2 separate regions of the Homo sapiens genome follow, and region 1 is linked to region 2. Evidence: fine-mapped expression QTL. Tissue or cell type: whole blood. Region 2 holds a variant in brackets; the other region holds the start of a gene. All regions are shown on one strand. Distances are from middle to middle.

Evidence for each region. PIP is the estimated chance that this variant, and not a neighbour inherited with it, causes the effect.
Region 1: it holds the start of TTC21B, and the variant in region 2 is fine-mapped to the expression of TTC21B in whole blood (TOPMed, PIP 0.97).

The regions. Positions count from the first base shown.
Region 1 is chr2:165,950,039-165,957,949 of GRCh38, forward strand. TTC21B (tetratricopeptide repeat domain 21B) reads right to left here and starts at 3,738. Exons shown (of 29, transcript NM_024753.5): 1 at 3,647-3,738. The coding sequence starts at 3,667. LOC102724058 (a long non-coding RNA gene) reads left to right here and starts at 7,380. Exons shown (of 4, transcript NR_110598.1): 1 at 7,380-7,554. RefSeq lists a silencer at 3,589-3,988 and an enhancer at 3,753-4,502.
Region 2 is chr2:165,877,967-165,885,877 of GRCh38, forward strand. TTC21B (tetratricopeptide repeat domain 21B) reads right to left here. Exons shown (of 29, transcript NM_024753.5): 26 at 5,828-6,052; 27 at 2,713-2,833. Among named protein-coding and RNA genes, the nearest start is that of TTC21B-AS1, 52 kb to the right of the region's middle. The variant T/C (reference allele first, on the strand shown) is at 2,905.

The DNA of each region.
Region 1 (7,911 bases), 72 kb after region 2:
GAAAACAGAAAGGCAGACAATAAACAGGAACTAAAAAAAAAAAAAAAAAGACAAGAGGCTTCCATTGCCAGACCATAGGTTTCTTTAAAAAAAAAAATCTTCTTTTTAAAATATCCAGTATTTTATTACAGCATTACAAAGTAATGACAAATTTAATTCTTCAACATATCATCAAATGTTATCTTACTCGGCTTTGAGTTCTGCGACAAATAAATTGTCAGTTAAGAATAAATAAACTATTTTTCAATGAAAATCGTTGTCTTTAAGCTTTTTCCAAAGTTATATTATTTCCATATACAAGACAAAACTACTATCAGGACCTACTAACTTCTGAATAAAAATGGGCCTGTGCTGTCTACCATTTTTCCTACGATTATGTCTAAGGCTTGGTTGCTAACCTCATCAAAGACAGAAACCACACTTTCCCACCATCACTAGGATACACCTGATTCACCAGAAAGCAGTTTGGGCCACCCCATACCTACCTACCTGGACTCTACAGCTTGTTCAGTAGCAGTGAGAAATACAGGTGACTAAGTGACAGGATTGAAATCTAAGGGTATCTAGACAGCTCTGGTTTGTTTGTTTTGTTTTGTTTTGGAGATTCTGTCACTCAGGCTGGAGTGCAGTGGCGCAATCTCTGCTCACTGCAATCTCTGCCCCCTAGGTTTAAGCGATTCTCCTGCCTCAGCCTCCTGATCTGGGACTATAGGCACACCCCACCGCACCTGGCTAATTTTTGTATTTTTAAGTAGAGATGGGGCTCCCCATGTTGGCCAGGCTGGTCTTGAACTCTTGACTTCAAGTGATCCACCCGCCTGGGCCTCCCAAAGTGCTGAGATTACAGGCGTGAGCCACCACGCCCGTCCGACAGCTCTGTTTTATATAGTCTCTTGCTTCTGGAGGGCTATAGTCCATGTACTTCTCTAGATCAGTTAGGCGACTGTTCTCTGTAATTTTACTCTGCCTCCCTCCTTGTGATCACTGCTCCCTAACCTCCTTTTTAGCCATGTTTCTTAAAAGTGTGCTCCATACCCCATCTCCAGACCCCCACAACACATTTCAGTGAAACACAGTTTTCCTCCAATGCTCCATTCCCTAAAGTTGCAGAATGACTTCTTACTTTGCCACAACTAAGGACACGTTTAATACCTTACTTGACTTCTGCACACTATCACTAAGCATCTATAATCCTCCTGAAAGGCAGTGGCATAGCACCATAAAAAGGACGCGAATTTAAAGGCAAAAAGAATCTCTGGTCCTTCTTACAACGCCTCAGTCTGCTCATTTATAAAATGCTGTTAGTAATGCAAATGTACAGGTCACTGTGAGAATTAATTAAGATATCATAGTATAAGAGTTCTATTCTGAAAAAAATAAGTTCCTCTGCATCCCATATGTTAATGGAATAAAAAAAAAATGTGTCCTGCGCCAAGACCTCTTGTCTATGTTCCAGATTCATATTTCCATTTTCCACCTGCTACCCTGCTACTCATGAATCCTCCCTTCCTATTTGCCCAGTCTCTCTAAGTCTAACCACTTAGTAGGTTCTTCTATTTCTCCAGTCTACCTCCCACTAAACATACCTAATGCTACTGCCTTGGTTCAGGTTAGGTTATTCAATCCAAAACATTTACTGACTGCCTACTAGTACCCAGGCACTGGGCTAGCTACTATGAATAGAAAAATGAGTAAGACATGGTTCCTGTCCCCCCGGAAAACCTACATTTTTCAGATGAGACTGTAATCTGAAGACTAACTGAAATATAATGTAGTAAATGTAAGAAAAGAGCTTATAAACTCCTTTGGGAATGTGGGATAGCAACATTTTGACAGCATTGAAAACTGAATGTGGTGTGAGGGGAGGATGGATGACTAAAATCAAGGGAAAGATTATTGGGGAGGATTTCAGAGCTGACTCTTGAATTGCAAACCCCTCATTCTCCCTCCACACACGTACACGCTCTTCCTATTTCCTTTTCATGATTCTTGAGGAAGGTACAGGAGTTAGGAAGAGGAACTGCAACAACACAGATAACAAGTCATCAATGGTACATTGGGATGGCAGTGGTGATGAAGATGACTAAAAGCCACTCCATACTCTAGAGCAGGGTTTGGCAAACCACACTCTGTGGGCCATATCTGGCTGGCTGGCTGTACAGCCAGTGAACTAAGAATGGTTTTTATATTTTCCAGCTGTCAAGGAAAAAAAAGAAATATTTCATAACATGAAAATTACATGAAAGTCAAATTTCAGTGTTCATAAATAAAGTTTTATTGAAACACAGCCATGCTCATTTAAGTATTGTCTATGGCTGTTTTGAACAAGCCAATTAGATGTGATAGACCATACGGTCCATAAAGTCTAAAATGTGTACTATCTGGCCCTTTGTTGAGAAAGTTTGCTATTCTCTGCTCTGGAGGCTTAAGTGAGACAGAGAGTATTGGATGATGAGGTTGGAGACGAAGGTGGGGTGAAAAGCCTCATATTAAGTACTTGGACTTGAACCTCAAGTCTAAGTAATGAGGAGGCCCATTTTTACATTTTACATTAAAGTGTTTTTATTAAAATGTTCATTTGGGTGGCAGTGCAAATAATACATTTAAGGGAATAAAAAAATGTAAGGATATAGGGGGATAGCTAGAACAGAGGATAATGTAAAACTTCAGGCAGAAAAACAAGACATTTCAGCATTCCCTAACCTCCTACATCGCCAAATTGTCCTCCATCCACTTATCACCATCTCACAGGATACACATTTCATTTACCTACTTGTTGTCTGACTCCTCCTACTCAAATGTAAGCTCCAAGATTGGAAGAGTTTTTCTTGGTTTTATTATTTCAGTGCTTAGAACAGTGCTAGACACATAGGAGGCATTCAGTAAATATTTGTTGAGTCAACTGAATTAGGGTTTTTCCCCAGCATTAATTAGCCTGTAAAATCTGAGAAGGCAGAAACTGTTCAGTTTTGCTCACTGCTATCTCCAGCTTCTAATGGACATACAGTAACCCTTCATAAATATTTGCTGAACGAGTGATTCAGTGAACAAATGAATAGAGAAGACCAACATCCGAAAAGTTATTTTATTTTCAAGCCTCATGTCTTTAACTGTTTTATATCAGCCTTTCTTAAGTTGACCGTCATTAATATTTGCTGAATGAATGAGTCAGTGATAAACAGAGAAGACCATCACCCTAAAATAACGACCCCTCCACTTTTAAGTCTTACGTCTTTAATGGGTTTCATATAATCTTTCTGCGCTCTTTTTACTGTCCAGTGTGGGAGCTGACACTAGTTTGCCTTAAGTCCTTAAAAATCGCACCCGGAGGCGCAGTGTCATAGGTAACCCAAGCTTTCCTAGTAAACATGATACAAAAGTAAACACAACCAACAGCATGGGGACCAGCAATTCAGAAACACCGAGCGGGCGGGCTGCCCAGACCTGGGCTTCCCCAGCAGGGCCCGCGGAGACCGGCCGTGAGCAGAGGCTGCAGGCCCACCCCGCAACCCGAGCAGCCGGGGCACCGCAGGGAAACAGCGGCCTAGCGAAGCCACCCGAGCTCCCTCCGCGCCCCCGGGCCAAAAGGCCGCAAAGGAACTCCGCCCGCCCGCCCGCTCACCCGCTCACCCGCTCACCCGCTCACCTTCAATTCCTGCGAGTCCATGGCTGCCCCGAGGCCGGGCCGCGGGGCTCTGGGGATTGTCTCGCCGCAGCCTAAAGGAAGACGCAGAATTCAGCTCCCCTAGCCTCCCGGAGCGCTCTAGCGCCCCGGGCCCCAGCGGGAGGGGCGGGGTCGCGCCGCGATTGGCTGTCGGAGGGAGAGGCGGGCCTGTGTGGCGGGGATCGTGCTGTAATGGAGCAGGGGCGGCGGGGACCCGGAGGTGAGGGCTGCGAGGGCCGCCCGGGAGGGTCCGGGCTGGGAAAAGGGCCTCCGCCGGAGAGTGCAGCTGGAAAAGGAGGTCACACTGGGAAACGGCTGTCTGAGGACAGTGGGTGGGCGGGCCGAGGAAATGGAATTCAGGAATAAAGGAAACGGAGTATGAAGAAGGGGAAGTCTGTTTCCTGTCACTGGTTGTAAAGGAAGACACCATTTTCTGCACGTTTGTCTGGAGGCGGATTCCCGCAGTGCGGCTCTCAGCAAGGCTCTGCCGGCGCGGGAAAAAGCGGTCAACTTTCACGTGGGCAAGTTGTTTTACGGCCACAAGGTGGCGCAGAAAAAAAAAATCACACGTTCTTAACAGAAATACGGTGCGCTTGGGCCCGTCTTTGCAGGCGTTGCTGCAATCTTTGTTAGAATGTGTGTTCAATTAGCCCTTTTTTACCAGCCCCGATAATAAGAGGGACAAATAAATTAAACTTCCAGAAAATTAGTGTCTTGTTTTCAATGATACTACTGATTTTAAACTGAGAATAAAATGAATCCCAATGCAAATTTTTATGTTTGCACCCCATTAGGCAACTCAATCAGTCACACATAGATTTCTTAAGTCCAGGAAATTAAATGGAAATATAATAGACTAAGATTTTCTATTTCTGCTTAAATAAATATTTAAAATAGTGCATAAGGTCTGAGATTTAAGTGATCTTTGCAGAATCTTTCACGTGGATTCCAAATTTTGATCCTAGTGTTAATTATCTTACTTTAGTTGACATGATACGTAGTTGCCTTTTCCAGATTTTAAGTTTCTTAAGGAGTTTATAAACATTGACTTTTTCCCCATGCCAATAGGTTATGTAAGGACAGTCTTGAGAAAAACGGTAGCTACCATCCTAGGCTTTAAGGTGAAGCAATATTTCTCACCGGTTTCTCTTTAAAGGAATTCACCACGTATTTTCACGAGCAACTTTTTTTTCTTTCCAATATTTATAGTCCAGCTAAATGTCTGTGGTGATGAACAACTGGTGATATCTCTTTGATTTTCAAAGCTGCGGATTAATCCGCACTTGGTATACAGCAAAGAATACCACAGGACCAGGGTGCTCAATGAAGTGTATAATCTTGAACTGTAAACCTTTGGTTATAAGAGAAAAGTTCATCTGTAAGGAAATATCTCAGGATCATGGTTAACAGAACAGATGATCAACCTACCTTTTGGAGATCTTGAAAGTCATATTAATTTAGCCTCGTATTCTCTTCACTGAATTCTGTTCTAAGGTTGAATTATTTAGCACAAAACACCAAGCCTGATGTTTCATAAATGTTTGTTGGATTAAAAGTACTCTGAGATTTGCTTTGACACTCACGGTGACTTGGTGTGCCCTGTGCCCTTACTAGATCTCATGTAAGAAATTTATTTTGGATCTCAGGCCAGGAAAAACTCTTGTCTTTCCTGAAAAATCGATGTGTTCCTTAGCAGTAACATTTTTATCGGCTCACTTTTACTAGCTACAAACTTTTGAGTCTGATATCCATGACCCTTCACCTCATCGTCTTTTCAAGCCTTATCTTCTACCTCCCCTTCAAGGAGCCTTTATTCCGCTCAGTGGGACAAATATTCCTTCTTCTGGTAATGCTTTCCCCTACTTTGTTTTGAGCTCTTTCTTCACCTGAGAAAATCTCCTTCTTCTGAGTTCATTTCAAATTTCATGAAGTCTTTAAGGATCACCATAACTGGATGGGTATAAAAATATCACAGTGTAGTGGCAAGAATACCCTCTTCTGCATCTGAGGTGGAGCTCCTATTACGCTAGCTACTTTTGTGACTTGGGGAAGTAATTTCCCTAAGCCTCATTTTCCTTATTTACTAAAGAAACTAAATGCCTTACAGACATATTAAAACTTCCTGACACATAATAGGCATTGTATAACCAATAGTTTCCATTAAACACGTAGTGCTCTATAGCAGTGGTCCCCAATCATTTTGGCACCAGGGACCAGTTTGGTGGAAGACAATTCACAGAAGATAAATTTTCCATGGACAGGGGTAGGGGAGATGGTTTCGGGTTGAAACTATTCCATCTCAGATCATCAGATTCTTATCTAAGGAGCATACAGCCTAGATCCTTCACATGCACAGTTTATAATGGGGTTTGCATTCGTATGAGAATCTAATGCCTCGCTGATCTGACAAGGAGGTGGAGCTTGGGGTAACGCTCCCTTTCCTGCCCCGCAGCTCACCTCCTGCTGTGTACCCCGTCCTGCTGTATACCCCATCCTGCTGTGTAGCACTGATTTGCAGTCCTCAGATTGGGGACCCCTGCTCTATAAGACTTATTACACTTGCATAGTCCTTGTATTACTAGTTATAGTGCATTTTTGTTTAATGTTCTCTACCAGATGATGAGCACTATAAAGCTAGATAATATAATGTAGCAGTTAACATCTTCGTCTCCAGAAATACGTCATTTTCGTTCAGACCTTAATGTGTCCGGAATTGGTGGGTTCTTGGTCTTGCTGACTTCAAGAATAAAGCCGCGGACCCTCGCGGTGAGTGTTACAGTTCATAAACGCACGCAGACCCAAAGAGTGAGCAGCAACAAGATTTATTGCAAACAGCAAAAGAACAAACCTTCCACAGAGTGGAAGAGGACCCCAGTAGAGTGCCCCTGCTAGCTCAGGTGGCCTGCATTTATTCCCTTATCCGGCCCCACCCACATCCTACTGATTGGTCTGCTTTACAGAGAGCTAATTGGGCTGTTTTACAGAGAGCTGATTGGTCCGTTTTGACAGGATGCTGATTGGTGTGTTTACAAACCTTGAGCTAGACACAGAGTGCTGACTGGTAAATTTACAATCCTTTAGCTAGACACAAAAGTTCTTCAAGTCCCCACCAGATTAGCTAGACACAGAGCACTGATTGGTACCTTTACAAACCTTGAGCAAGACACAGGGTGCTGACTGGTGCGTTTACAAACCTTCAGCTAGACACAGAGTGCTGACTGGTGCATTTACAAACCTTTAGCTAGACATAAAAGTTCTCCAAGTCCCCACCTGACTCAGGAGCCCAGCTGGCTTCACCTAGCGGTTCCCGGCCCGCCGAGACTGCAGCGGAGCTGCCCACCAGTCCCGCGCCACGCGCCCGCACTCCTCAGCCTTTGGGCAGTGGATGGGACCGGGCGCCGTGGAGCAGGGGGCGGCGCCCTTCGAGGAGGCTCGGGCTGGGCACGAGTCCACCGGGAGAGGGGAGGGCTCGCGCATGGCATGACGGGCTGCAGGTCCCGAGCCCTGCCGCGCGGGAGGCGGCTGAGGCCCCGTGAGAATTCGAGCGCCGCAGGGGCAGGCTGGCAGTGCTGGGGGACCCGGTGCACTCTCCGCAGCTGCTGGCTCGGGTGCTAAGCCCCTCACTGCCTCGGGCCAGCGGTGCCGACCCGCCGCTCCAAGTGCGGGGCGGGCGGAGCCCGCGCCCACCTGGAACTCGCGCGGGCCCGCCAGCGCCAACCGCAGCCGCGGTTCCCGCCCGCGCCTCTCCCTCCACACCTCCCCGCAAGCAGAGGGAGCCGGCTCCGGCCTTGGCCAGCCCAGAGACAGGCTCCCACAGTGCAGCGGCGGGCTGAAGGGCTCCTCAAGCACTGCCAGAGTGGACACCGAGGCCGAGGAGACGCCAAGAGCGAGTGAGTGCTGCTAGCAGGTTGTCACCTCTCATTAATACTACTATTCACTGGCTATTCAGTTGGAAAAAGTTATTTAACTTCTCTGTATACTTCAGCTGTAATATCAGACTAACACCTCAGAAAATTGTTAAGAAGACTAAATAAGTTAATATTTAAAGTACAGAGCAGTATTAGGGGTATGGTAAGTACTGAATTACTGTTACCTATAATCACTTGTACTCCCAACTACTCCAGAGTACAGTATTGATCACATAAGTATTTAGAAAGTTTTACAGCATTGATAGTTTTTTTCAATCATATCTGTGTTTGATTTTCTCCTCCTCCAATTCTTATACTGATCCACTTGTAGCTGTATTA
Region 2 (7,911 bases):
TCAAGATTTCAGTTTTGGTTTGTGGTTTCTTGACTAGCTTTGGGATCTTACGCAAGTGGCTTGAGCTGTCATTTTCAGGTTTCCTCATCGCTAAAACAGGAATAACAACTCCTCCCTCTAACTCTTAGTATAATTTTAAAAATCATATAAAATACTTGTGAAATGGTTTTTAAAACCTTAGAATACCACAAAATATTAGCATTTTTTAATGTAAGCATTCACTATATTATAATCACAGAATTTTAACACTGGAAGAAACTTGATACATGACCTGGTACAAAAATTTCAGAGGAAATAAAGACCTAAGAAGGGGAAAGAAAATGTGCACTGCAGCTGCACTACACCTGCCAAACTTATTAGAACTCAACTATATGCAATCAGGAGAGACAGCGAGAGAATGCAAACATTCTACACAGTCTAATGACTGTCCTATAACCTGAGAATAGGTATGAAGGGTGAAACATGAGTAGTTTCTTCTCTCATTGGATCTCAGTTGTTCCTAGTGTGTTTCTTTTTTTCCTCGTATATATTTAAGATATACAAAATGATGTCGGTGTGTAGATGTGGGTGTGTAGATATATGTGTGTGTGTGTATATATATTTATTTATAAATGATTACTGCAGTCAAGCAAATTATCCATTCATCATTCATCCTGGTGCCTCTTATAGTGACAATATTCAACCCTGAATTCTATGGAAAGAGCATGAGCACGATTTTTTTTTTTTTTTTTTTGAGACAGAGTCTCACTCCGTCAACCAGGCTGCAGTGCAGTGGTGTGATCTCGGCTCACTGCAACCTCCACCTCTCGGGTTCAAGCAATTCTCCTGCCTCAGCCTCCTGAGTTGCTGGGATTACAGGCGCCCGCCACCATGCCCGGCTAATTTTTGTATTTTTAGTAGAGACGGAGTTTCACCATGTTGGCCAGGCTAGTTTCGAACTCCTGACCTCAGGTGATTTGCCCACCTCGGCCTCCCAAAGTGTTGGGATTACAGGTGTGAGCCACTGCGCCTGGCCATGAGCATGATTTTAAGGGTTTTCTGACAACTGAAAAAGTGAAATACATTGTTTATTTGGCCAGGCACATTGAGGGTGTTAGATGCAATGACAATCTTAAGGATGAAATTGAGGAATTAATGGAGAGCCTTAGAAAGAAATGATTACCAAAGCAAAGCTAGAGGAACTGATAAAATAATCTATAAAATACAATGATGACACAATGAAAGAACTAGTCATTTGGAATCTCTTTATTTGCTGAGGTCTTCCAAGGAATGGAATATATAAATAATTTAACTTCTATGTGCATTCCTTCTATGGAATAAAGTGTCAAAATTAATATTTTAAGGATATTTAAGGACTTTTCATTTTACCAGATGACTTTATTCTGAAAGATATATCACACCTTAGAATAAAAAATACTATAAAAATCATTAGTTTTTGTGCTTTGCACAAGTCTAGTATAGTATGAGAACAGACTCCAGGAAACTAACAGATGAGGGAAGACCTGAGCTAACAGCAGTTAGTATGAGGTTGACTCATTTGACTGCAAATCAAAATCGAATTCACACGGTGACATGGCTGCTGAAAAGACTGATGCCATCTTAGGCTGAATTAACAACTACAAATTGCCTAATCAAAAGAAAAAAATAGCTTAATTATACTTATAAGAAGCCAAATCATATTTGAGAGGTTGTTCATTTATGGTACAACAGGTCAGAGGGGCATGGAAAAATAAAACAGCACTTTCCAAACTTACATGGCCATGGCATCTACCACCTTCACACTTCATTCTTTTTAATTAAAAAAAAAATAATTATTAAAATCTCCCCAACTGTTCCAAAGCACAGTTTGGGAAACACTATTTTAGAGCTTCCAGGAGACAGCAACAAGGAAGATGAGAGACTCGGAATCCAATCTTAGGAAGAATGGACAAGTAACTGCAGATGGCTTGAAGACAAGTCCTAGGACACAGGACTGAAGATTGCAATTTAAAGGGTCATGATCTGTAAGAGGGAGGCATTCTGTAAGTTGCTCCGGAAAACAGACTTGGGCAGTTTCAAGGAGGCATATTTCAACCCAATACAAAGAAAGAGTACACAAACATGAGGATGAGCTCCCTCGTATGAGGAGAGAGGTTGGTCATGACATATATTCTGATGCCACCTCTGTTAGGGACACTGTAGACTAGCATTACCCAAACTAACAGCCTGCAACATCCAGCCTGGGACTGGATGATGTTTCTAGATGCTCAGGAGAAAAAAAAAATGTCCCATGGTCAAATAATTGTGGGAAACATGGCCCCTCTGTGATATCCATCGCAATATACGTTAGTGTTTAAAGGCTTTGAGAAGTAAAGAAACCTGTGTAATTCAATTTAATGCAATATTTTCCTAACTTACTTGGCAATGGAAACATCTTTTTCCATGGCATTCCCAATTTCAAAATAGCACCTTCTTTTAGAAGGAAGAGAAGGGGGCAGAATTAGACTAGATGTACACTAAGTGACTGAGGACAAGTTTGGAACTCAGGAAACTGAACTATTAGTAGCTAATAATATATTATGAATATAAAATTTATTCTCCTTTCAGAAAGGTTGACAATGAAAATTGACTCAATGTTTATTTTGTTTTGAAAAAAATCAAATGCATTTAAATGAAAATTAATAAATACAACATAATTTTTCTGTGAAAAATCTAGGTGATTGCCAAACTCACCTACTGCCGGATTTGTCCGATTGCTATATTTCCATGCCATCTCATAGTTCAAGGCAGCATCTGTATATGCTTGCTCTTTTTCCATAATGTATCCCATATATTCATAAGCTTTGCAGCAAGACTGAAGAAAAATGGGAGACATCAATAGATTAAACTTGATATCACTAAGATTTTATGGGATGTTTGTGACTA[T/C]AGAGGTCAATCATATCAACCCATTTAAATGACAAATCAAACAATGGTTTTCAACCTTGGCTAGGCAATCAAATTTTTTACTGAACTTAATAAATGATTCTGATGGCAAGTCTCCATCACATATCTGCAGAATCAGGATTTTCTTTACAGAATCAGAAATACACAATAGGGCACTTGTGTTTTACACAAGCACAGGTACACTATTATGAGTGATTTAAACACATACAAATACAGAGATAAGAGCATAATGAACTCCATGAACCCTTATCTTCAATAATTATTTTTTGACTAATACTGTTTCACCTCTATCTCACAAACCTACCCTTCTGTATTACCAGAAAAAATCCTCAGATATTGTATCAACTAAGTCTAAATGTGTTAGTGTGCATCTGTAAAAGAAAAAGACGTTATTTAAACAGAACCACAATTTTATCACACCTAAAATGTTAATGACTCCTTAATAGCACCAAATATCCAGTACTGTCTAAATTTTAATTGTCTCAATATAATTTGTTTTTGTTAGATTGAGGACTGAAATAAGGACCAAACATTGTAACTGGTCAATGTTTTGATCTAGTCTCTTGATCCAGAGGTTTCCCTTCTGGTATGTCTGTCTGTCTCTCTGTGTCTCTTTTCTTGAAATTAAATGTAATAGAAACAAGAATATTTATCCCCGAGTTTCTCACAACGCAGGTTAATTGACTGCATCCTTGTGGTGTTTATATAATATATTCCTATGTCACTGACGTTTTCTGGAAGTTGTAATTAGATGTAGAGGTTTGGATTCAATTTTGATTCTGGAGGAGAGAGGTGAATCTACTTCAAACATCAGTGCTATGATAAGCCACACTGAGGCATAAAAACATGGATGCATGTTTTTGTATATTTCTTAATTGTAATTTTTTTCCAGAATATGAGTTTAAAAATATTGAAAAATCTGAAAGTATATATTAAAAATCACTACATTTAAGACTGAACATTTTATTTATACCTAAACTTAATTTCTTATCATTTTACTTTTCTCACTTTAATGGAAGAAATCTCACCAGTAATATTTTCATTAAAACCATTACCAATTACCCATTTTTTAAAAAACATAAAAATATGAATATAGGAATGCACATATTCCCTTTTGATTCAGGCTCCAATAAAGCTCAGCACAGCTGCATTAAATTATTATTTATCTTGATTACTAAGTGTTTCACTTGTCTCATCCCAACCCTAGCCCTGCCATAGATGTCTGTTCTTCTGTTGGGAGGCACAGAATGTCTGATTCTCCCTCTTTTTGTGATGTTACATCCATATATAAATTTATCAGGGTTGAAAAATGGGGATAGCCTATCAGTCTTTCTTCATTAATTAGCTGGAAAATGTCTATGATGAGAAACGTCTCATTGACTATTTGGTTAACCAATTCTGTACAGAAAAGGCAGGATATTTATTTGCAAGCTTTAGAAATAGCAGTCAGTTCACTAGCATACTGCAGTGGTTACCAATTAGGTTTTTTGTTTGTTTTGTTTTTTCTATTTTGGATCTTCGAGAAGTCATGGATTTAAACAGATTTTATGTATTTCAATATATTGCAGTTATCATTCTTATCAATACTTAAAGCATCCCAACTTCGGCTACTAGAGGTGTCTTTAAGTTGGCCCCTAGATCTTTCACACAAACTCTAATCATCATGGATAGCTTCCTTCATCATCTGGTATGGCAAGACAGTCTAGTGTCGTCTTGTACATTTCCTGCCCCAGATATGGATGACTTCCATTTTTTAAATTATGTAATTCAAGTTTCCTAAGCTTTAGTTCTTAAATATCATGCTTTCAATATCAACATATTCAACCAGCAGGGCTGAATGAAGCTTCTAAAGCAGCCATCATGTTCAACCATGCAATGTATTGTTATCAGCGTTCTGGCAAACTGAAATTGTATGTGCACTGAAATTCTCATGCAATCTTGGTTAATCCTAGACTAGATATAGAAGGGTAAACTATTCAGCAGTTTAGATTTTCAAAGCCTATTAATGAGCATTCGGCTTTTCAAAGCCAATTTAACATAAAATTTATGTAGCTAATCGTCTAGAATAGTGCATAAATTGACAAATGCTTGGATCTTTCAGGTTCTTAAGTTCCTAGGAAAGTATCTTAATAGTACTAGATAATCACAATTCCTCTTTAAAAAATAAACGGTCCATTTGTAATCTAATTCGCTCAATGAGAATAAAACAGATTTACTGTGATTAAGATTTTGAAGTAATTGATATGAATATATGAAGATAAATATCATTTCTAAGTTGTGTGCAATTATTTCTCAACAAAAAAATAAATCTTAACTTTAAAGAACTGTTATAATGACATCTTTTGTAATTAAACATCAAAATGTTAGTAAAAAGCCTTAAATTCTAAGGACTTTATAATATTCAATTTTATACCTAAATATAAGGAATTTTTATTAAACAAATGAAATTAAAAGCTGAAAAGATTTTCTCCCACAAAATATATTATGCATAATAGATTCTAATAATGAGAAAATGACATGCAGCTGCAGTAAATTCATCAAGAGTATTTCTTAATGGGAGGGACAGACGTCCGCAATTAATGTTCTTCTGCAATTTTCATTAGTTCTGGGATGAGATGGATAATCACAGGCAATCGTTTGACATTCCAAAAACACTTTCCGTTAAGTAGGGCATCACTACAGCTGAAACTTGAAATTGCATAAATCTTTCTTTTTTTTAAACTTTAAAGGACAAATGGCTTTTTTCTTATTATTAATGCTTGTTTCCTGATTGTGGTAAGAATAAACATTTAATTTTCAAAAATCACACAGGAATCCTTGGAAATGGACTAACACTCAACAATATCTATATGGAAAGCTTATGCAACAAAGGTCAATAATTATTTTTTACTCTTCAATCACCTACTCTATTATGACGCAGGCACCGTTTTAACAGGTCTTCTGCCATGTCATATTTTGCTGATTGAATGTAAATATCAGCAAGTAGCAGCCAACTCTTCTCAAACTCTTCAGCATCAATAGCATTCCAATTCATTTTCGCAATACGCTTCAGCTGGTTTCTGGCTCGTGGAGTCTGTTTCAAGATCATATAAGCCGTTGCCATTCCCAAGAGCGCTGGGATATGCTCCTTCTATAAGAAAACAAAATTTTAGACCATAAGATGCATAAACATAAATGCCCCAAAAACATACAGAAAGCAGAAAATGCTACATAAGAACTAGTTTGTGGATTCTATTTCTAGCTCCATTACAGATAACTGTGATTACAGGTCATTATTTAACACATCAAGTACCCTCAAGCTACTATGAAGAAAACTTGGTCAAGCACTGTGTGGTCAAGATAATTGAAGATAATGACAACTATTCAGATGCCATATGCACACAATTCCAAGAATTAGTGAGACTTTATCTTTAATGGGATTCAAACAGTCATGTTTTAGTTTTGTATAGAAACAGAAAAAATAAAACTCTATTTCAGTAAAATCCTTATTGAGCAGTTTGTATTTCAGATTTAACATTTAGGCTCCTTAGTTCTTTCACCTGTCAAAGACGAGTAACAATAATTTACCTGCAGATGATGGTCCTTACCCATTATGACTTCTATTGCTTTTTTTCCCCCTCCCTTCTCCTTTTATCCAAAAACCTCTTCTCCCAATAAAGTTTGAATAACGAAATGTTAAAAATAAGGCATATAATTAATTCACCACTTGGAAAGTATATGAAATAAACTCATGCCTTAAAATATGCTTTTAGATTTGGAGTCTGCAGCTTCCTAAAACAATCTATATGATATTCTTTTGGATAGAGTTTGAAGTCAGAGAATGTCACTCTGTGAAACCAATAGGTTAATGAGAACTCATAAAATGGAGGCCATTAGTGATCTATCCAGACAACTAACTTTCATAAGCAATAATGTGTATGTTCCTGATTAAGGTAGGATGCTTCCTAAATTTCAGCAGAGGGATTATGATGCATTTATAAAGAAAGAAGCCTCAGCTTAACATACAAATAAAGGGGCCAGGAGGGCAGCTCATGTCTGTAATCAAAGCACTTCGGGAGGCTGAGGCTAGTGCATAGCGAGACCTCGCCTCAACTGAAAATACAAAAGAAAAACTAGCTGAGTGTGGTGGCCAGCCCCTGTAGTCCCAGCTACTCAGGAGGCTGAAGTGGGAGGATCTCTTGAGCCTGGGGGTTCAAGGCCACAGTGAGTTATGATCGTGCCACTGCACTCCAGCATGGAAGACAGAATGAGACACTGTCTCAAAATAAAAACAAAAACAAAGGGTAAGAAATTGTGACTGAGGAACGGTGATACCATTACTATAATAAAAGTATACTATAAGATAGCAAATTTGGGTAACTCATAAGGAATACTGCAAAAGGAGAGTGGTAAAATGTTCAATGTCCAACTGATCTTTGGAAGTAAGAAATAACTCTGGAATAGAGAAGGGCAATACATCAGGGTTTTATAAAAACAGCTTTTAGAAATATAAAAACTTCCTTGCCTCAAATTCTGTATCTATCAATAAGCTTCCAAGATATAATCTGTTCCTCTAGGTAAGGGGTGGCAAAATGGTTTGAGTGTCAAATCCAACCAACTGGTTGTAGGTTATGAAGAAGTGTGGGATGTTACCAATTACTGAGCCTCACCCTCTCCCCACCTCAGCCCACCTCAGGTGGGCCAGGAGAGGAGAGAAGATAGAGGCCTGCTATGTATTTGTCAGCCAGGTCCTAGCACAGCCTAAGAGGAGGAGGGTCCTATGAAAAGGTCCCACATTCCCTCTACACTACACAATTAAAAATAACCTCTCTTACACTTTGAGTTTGATTAGAACGTATCGGTTCTTCACAACTTGATTACTCCTGAGTGAACTGAAGAACAGTTTCTAAAAGCAAACCTGAGTTCTAATCCCTGCATTAGGTCTTTTTTTCTGGTGCAGACATCCTAAGACCTACAGCCAACTTCTCTGTCTCTCAATAACTCTAAATT